Linked DNA regions of Homo sapiens. Changing the gene in region 1 together with any one later gene gives a genetic interaction. Each region holds a gene or a part of one and is shown in the gene's direction. Other genes may lie near its edges.

Region 1 (3,500 bases):
CAAAGTCTGCTGCTACACCAGAAGACCACAGAACCCTGGTCTTCTGGGAGGCCGAGGTGGGTGGATCATTAGAGGTCAGGAGTTCGAGGCCAACCTGACCAAAATGGTGAAACCCCATCTCTAGTAAAAATACAAAAAAAGTAGCCATGTATGGTGGCACATGCCTGTAGTCCCAGCTACTCGGGAGGCTGAGGCAGGAGAATTGCTTGAAGCCAGGAGACAGAGGTTGCAGTTAGCCGAGATTGTGCCAGTGCACTCCAGCCTGGGAGACAGAACAAGACTTGGTCTAAAAAACAAAAATTTTTAAAAAGCAACAATACACATTTTTCAATACAGTTGCATATACTATTTAATAATTATGAAAATTTCTAATATTTCTGTTGCTTTGAGAAATTAGAACTGAAATGACACCCTCCCAGACAAAAAAGAACACTCAGCTATGGTTGAAGTTCTGGTGCTCAGACGCTAGCTTAAACTCTCCCACAAAATCTCTCTCTCTCTCCCCCTCCCTGCCACTAACCTCTGTACCTGCTCCTGGTTATGTTACAGGTTATGTTCTGGTACTTCCTTTACCCCATGACTCTCTCCTTCTCTTCTACTCCCTTAGTTAGCAATTAGGTAGATTTTAATTTGATTTAAAAGATTTGTTCTCATTGAATACCATTTTATACTTCATTTTCTTATTTGAAAAAAAAAAAAATATATTCCCCCCTGCTTCCCAAAAAGCCAAAGTTTTCTTCATCAGAACATAACATTCATATCAATATGATGAGTGGGCCAAAGTAGAAGATTCCCTGTTCATGCAAAGAACCATCACTTTAATGGAATCCTTGAGTTTCATCTGCCACTTGAACCTCAAAGACTGACCTGCTTTCTGTCAAAAAGTCTTAACTTGTAGCATATAGAGTTATAGTGGATTATGTCTGTCACATGCATATTTAAGAATGAAGACATTTGATACCTGCCAGGTGCTAAGAGCAAAACTGTCATCCAGTTTAGTGTGTTTAAACCAGGATGAGAAGTACCAAAGTCTGCTGCTACACCAGAAGACCATAGAACCCCCCTCCAAACTGTCCAGGGTCATTGATAGTCCTTAACCAGGAGAGAGATCTGACTGTAACAGACCAAATCAGCCCTTCCCACCCAAAGAAATGGAACCATGGGCAACCCTAAGCTCCAACTACTGCAAAGACTCCTCCGTTATAGACTACCAGTTTCCAGATCTCTGGAGCAAGCTTAGTGGTTACAAAGCCATTCTGTCTCCTTTGCACTGATTAGCATCTGGAGCGTGTGAGGAGGGATGATCAAGAGGCCCTTCAGGGAGCTCGCCAGCCAGGTAAATATGGTACCTCTCTTGTCAAGTAAGAAAGTCTGATTTTTTGGACACTTTCTTAGTTATAAATGGCCCCTGGTCAATTTATTCACCCAACAAACATTCATTGAGCAACTCTTATGTACCAGTCATTTTTTTAGGTGCCAGGGATACAGCAGTGAACCAAACATCCCACTGTTATGGAGCTTACATCCTAGTAGAAAAAAAAAATAGACAACAAGTAATGTATGGTAGGTCCTATGGAAAAAAGCAAGATGAGGGATGGATGGGCTTACTGTTTTATTTCGAATAAGCTGTTCAGGGTAGGTTTCAATGTGATGATACTTGAGCCATCTGTGAAGGAATTGAAGGGGCAATGCAGCTGTCTGGGGCTTGAGCATTCCAAGAAGAGAGCATAGCAAGTATAGAAGAGCTGAGACAGACCCACTAAGGGGAAAGTGACAAGAGGTGAGGTAGGTATGCCTTCACAGATCTGGCAGGTCTTGGGAGCCATCAGAAGACCTTGGCTTTTACTCGAGCTCAGAAGCCATTGGCAGGTTTTGAGCAAAAGAAGGACATGATCTGACTTCCATTTCAGATGGGTTGACCACGTGTAATAGCTTCCCCTTTCTTGCTAAGTTGTGATTTGAATGGGTCAATAAATTACATGGTTACCTGATTTTTAGAAGACAACTTTGTTGTAGGTAAGGATAGAATTCTGCATGAGGCCAGTTGTTATAATTCAGACAGATGAGAATGCCTTGGAACAGATTGAGGTCAGTAAAGGTAGTGGGAAGTGGTCAGATTCTGGGTGTATTTTCATGCTACTGTTGAGAGAATTTGCTAATAGTATGCATGTGAAGTAGAAGACAAAGGGAGGACTCAAGGATAACTCTAAGGCTTTTCACCAAAGCACTGGAAAAGGAAGAAAGGGTGGAAGTATGTGTAATATATGTGTGTGTGTATATATGTGTACATGTGGGTACATACATGTTCCTAGGAGAATACTTCTCAATGAATACTTAATATTTCTCTAGTTGCTCAACTTTTTACTGAAAGGAGAGCTTGAAAACAAGGAAAATTACCTGTTGAGTAGTTCAGATTTGAACTTGTTCTGGGAAGACTAGACTAGAATGCCAAATGCATTGTGATGTTAGAGCCTAATGAATGTGTGTTAGATTTGGGAATACCGGAAAGAAGAATTAGGCTTTAGAATCATTGGGGAGAAAGAATTAAGAATTAGTTTTAGGGCTGGGTATGGTGGCTGACACCTGTAATCCCAGCACTTTGGGAGGCCGAGAAAGGTGGATCACTTGAGGTTAGGAGTTCAAGACCAACATGGCCAATATAGCAAGACCTTGTCTCCACTAAAAATACAAAAATTAGCCAGGTGTGGTGGCGCATGCCTGTAGTCCCAGCTACTCAGGAGCCTGAGGCACTAGAATCACTGGAACCCGGCAGGTGGAGGTTCCAGTGAGCCGAGATCACACCACTGTACTCTAGCATGGGCAATCGAGCAAGACTCTGCCAAAAAAAAAAAAAAAAAAGAATTAATTTTAGTTCATATCGATTTTGGATAAATGGACAGGCACATAGGAAATGATCATGTAGGACAGGAAATAAGTATCAGCAAAGGCCTGAAAATTGGAACTGATGAAAGGGCATCAGAGGGATAAAATGTTTGTCATTCTGTGTTAGAGATAGTTACCCATTCAGCTAACAAGTATATTTTAATTGCTCATTTGCCAAGCAGTGTGATAGGCTATATGAAAACAAATTGTAAGAGAGATAGAGGAGGAGGCTTACACATCAATGGAGGATAAATATGCCTTGCTTCCGAAAATACAATGTAGTGCAAGAATTGCTCGAATGGTAGCATGTATAGAAAACAGTAGGAGCGTGGATGAAGAGCCCATAAGCCTACCTTCGGTGTCAAGATGATTTCACAGATTAGGGTGAGCTCTGAAGGTGAGAAGTTTGTCAGATGGACAACCAGAGGGAATGGTAGTTGCAGGATGGTAGGTGCAGATATGAGAATTTCTCACTGGAGTGTAAACTTTGAAGCTAAAAGGAGGCAAATGGCAGAAGGTGAGGCTATACAGTGCTTGCTTAATATCAGTCAGGGACACTCAAACTCATCCACATTAAAAGCTGTATAGAAGAAAGGTAGAAAGAACATCAGTGTTGG
Region 2 (3,500 bases), on another chromosome or scaffold:
AAAAGTAAACAGACCAGATCCCCAACCTTGGGAACTCTTGCTGGGGAAGAGACAGAAAACATAAAAACCATAAATAAGAGCCAGGTGCAGTGGCTCACGCCTGTAATCCCAGCACTTTGGGAGGCTGAGGCGGGTGGATCACCTGAGGTCGGGAGTTCGATACCAGCTGACGACATGGAGAAACCCCATCTCTACTAAAAGTACAAAAATTAGCCGGGAGTGGTGGCACATGCCTGTAATCCCGGCTACTCAGGAAGGCTGGGGCAGGAAAATCGCTTGAACCTGGGAGGTGGAGGTTGCAGTGAGCCAAGATTGTGCCATTGCATTCTAGCCTGGGCAACAAGAGCAAATCTCCGTCTCAAAACAAACAAAAGAACACCATAAATAAGAAAACCAGCCAGTGCGGTGGCTCCCGCCTGTAAACCCAGCACTTTGGGAGGCCGGGGCTGGCGGATTATTTGAGGTCAGGAGTTTGAGACCAGCCTGACCAACATGGAGAAACCCCGTCTCTACTAAAAATACAAAAAACTAGCCAGGCATGGTGGCGCATACCTGTAATCCCAGCTACTCCAGAGGCTGAGGCGGGAGAATAGCTTGAACCTGGGAGGCAGGAGGTTGCAGTGAGCCGAGATCGCACCATTGCACTCCAGCCTGGGCAACAAGAGCAAAACTCAGTCTTAAAAAAAAAGAAAAGAAAAATCCAGTGCAGGAAGGAAAGTACTGGAGTGGGTATTCAGGGATGGGCTCTCTGAAGTGTGACATTGGAGCTGGGGCCTGAAGGACATGACTGTGGGAGCCAGAGGGATGGTACCTGGAGTAAGAGTTCCAGGCAGAGGCGACAGCACGTGGAGAGATACTGAGGAGGGAGCCCTCTGCTTTGCCTCTGAACCTTGGTTTCCACATGTGTATAGTGAGGAGCATCTGGGTGCACTGGCCTGCAGGGTTGCTGTAGGGAGGAGGGAGGAAGGCTCTGCTCTATGCAATGCCCGGCCCCAGCCGTGTGTGGGGAAGACAGCGGGGGCTGAGAATCAGAATCAGGAGCAGGGGAGGAGAGTGGCAGACACTCCACAGACCCTGACCCAGCAGAGGTCATGGAATCTTGACTCAGATGCTGTGGGGCGGGGAGGGCCTTTGGAGGGTGGAAACCTGGAAGGAGAAGCTGCTGGAAACGCTGAGACCCCGTTGCCTCCTGGGCAGTGTCGGGGCAGCAGGAACTTTGTTACGTGGAGTTCTCCTCGTACGGCTGGCTCTGCCAAGCTACCCTTCTCCTTAAAGTGTACCCCATAGGAAATAGGGTTTCGGGAGCCTCCAGGAGAACATGGGAGGGCAGTGCCCAGGGGCCCCTCTTCCCATTGTTAGGTGGAGTGGTGGGGAGAACCCAGCTGCTACTCTCTTGATGTATGACCTTGGATGTGATTTAGCCTCTCTGGGCCTTGGCCCCGCTGAACCATGTGATCAGAGCACCAAGCCGGCCTCCCACGCTGGTCTGAGCTGCTCAAGGGCCATCTAGGTCCTCTTTGTCCCAAGCCAGAGGTCGCCTCTCCCCGGCCAAGCCGCGGCTATGGGGGTGGTGGTACAACAGAGAGCACAGGGACTTTGGAACACAACACTGGGTCATGACCCCTGCCTGGCCACTCTTGGCTGCTGACCTTGACCCTCTGTCTCCTCCTTTGTGAATGGGGGGAGTGACAGCATCTTTTGAAGGGTACAGCACAGGAGAGGTGCCAAACCAGTGAGTCAGACCCTCCTCTGACCGCTTCTTAGCTGTGTGACTTTGGACAAGCTCCTTGCCCTCTCTGTGCCTCAGCTTCCTTGTTGGTAAAATGTGGATTACATTAGCACCTACCTGGTAAAGTTGTGAAGAGGACTGAGATAATCTGTGTAAAGGTTTTAGCACATAATCTGTGCTCCAGAAATATGAATTGGGGGTATTATGGCCTCAAAGGGGGGTTAGGAGGACTAAAGGAGACCGTTGAGCTTACAGGCTGGTCCATTTTGGCTCAGTGGGAGGATGAGGTCTGGGAGTAAAGTGTACCTAATCCTTGCCTTCCCACGGCCTACCAGGAACTTCCTGCCCAATCCAGCCAGGGCAGGGAAACCAAGTAAGCCCCTTCACCTCTTTGATCTTCAGTTTCCTCCTCTGTGCTCACATCCTGGGTGGCGAGCAGTAGAGGCAACACTGATAAAGGGCCTGATGCCCTTAGTGATGCCTCTGCTGTCCCTAGTGGCTGCTCTCCCAGCAACAGGTCAGGTAGCCGCAATGGCAGCAACAGTCCCTAACCCACCGAGCATCTGCCGTGTGCCAGCCTGTTCTGCAGCTTTTATGTGCATTTTCTGGTTGAATCCCAGAACTATCCCGTAGATGGTAGAGCTGTTATCCCATTTTACATGGCAGGTAAGTGGGACAGTTGGGCTTTGAACCCAGGCAGCCAGGCTCCAGAGCCCATAAGGCCCATAAGCATCACTTCTCCTTGTCCTCACCCATGGCTGGGTTTGGGCTGCAACCAGGCTGATCTCTTCCCCGGGTCCCGTCCTCACTCCCCCAGATCAAAGAGCCAGCCGAGAAGCAAAAATTCTTCCAGGAGCTGAGCAAGAGCCTGGACGCATTCCCTGAGGATTTCTGTCGGCACAAGGTGCTGCCCCAGCTGCTGACCGCCTTCGAGTTCGGCAATGCTGGGGCCGTTGTCCTCACGCCCCTCTTCAAGGTGAGTGGAACTGTGGGGTCCAGAAGGCTGGCTGGGTGCACAGGAACTGCCAAAGAGAAGGCCCTGGGGTAGGGCAGGCTGTTTAGGGCAGACCCAAGCCCATATGAGCAGGAGCTTCCTGCCAGTGTCTATAAACAGGTACCTGACCAGCTGTCCCCTGGGGAGGAGAGACTCTGCCGCTAAAATCCTTTTTTCCACAAACCTCTGGCTTCACAACCCTCAGCCCTTCCTCCATTTCTCCGGGTCTGACCTGTGCACCTTGGTTCCCAGGGCCCAGGGGATTACCTACTCACCACCCCACTTTGCCCTCCTCCCTCCTGACTGCTTAGCACTCAGCTCACCTGACTTCTGGGGGCTGGATCTTCCACCCTTTCCTCAGACCCCAGCCCGCCTTTTTATGGGCACCTGGCATTCCCTGCCCTCCTCACCTTGGGGAGAACCCTTTCATCTGAAAGACTTGTCAGGAGGGGAGAAGACAACAAGCAAGTCCTGTATAGCTGAGAACCCCCAGAAATTGCAGGCAGAATTTCTGCATATGGCATAAAGGTACCTGTTTGTAGGGAGGGGCCCAGAGCTTTCATCAGCCTCCTGAAAGAGGCCTTGGCCCAGAAAGGTTAAGGGCAAGGCTGAGATGGAATATGGGTAGAGGAGCTACTGAGGAAATGCCTGCCCCCCCCTCCGCCATCACTTCATTCCCACCCTGGGATATCAGCCCCAGGAATTTAGATAAGCCCAGCAAAGTCAGCCCATTCCTGTGAGCAGCTGAACCCATCTTCCTGCCCTTTCAGGTGGGCA

What was found.
Region 2: changes in BOD1L1 (region 1) and SCYL1 together harm fitness more than expected from each alone (negative genetic interaction), as found in Homo sapiens cells (one large-scale study listed by BioGRID).

Annotation. Positions count from the first base shown.
Region 1 is NC_000004.12:13,621,226-13,624,725, reverse strand, and holds part of BOD1L1 (biorientation of chromosomes in cell division protein 1-like 1), read left to right. Parts: intron 1-3,500. UniProt on the Homo sapiens protein: Component of the fork protection machinery required to protect stalled/damaged replication forks from uncontrolled DNA2-dependent resection.
Region 2 is NC_000011.10:65,528,083-65,531,582, forward strand, and holds part of SCYL1 (N-terminal kinase-like protein), read left to right. Parts: intron 1-2,546; coding exon 2,547-2,705; intron 2,706-3,493; coding exon 3,494-3,500. UniProt on the Homo sapiens protein: Regulates COPI-mediated retrograde protein traffic at the interface between the Golgi apparatus and the endoplasmic reticulum. Involved in the maintenance of the Golgi apparatus morphology.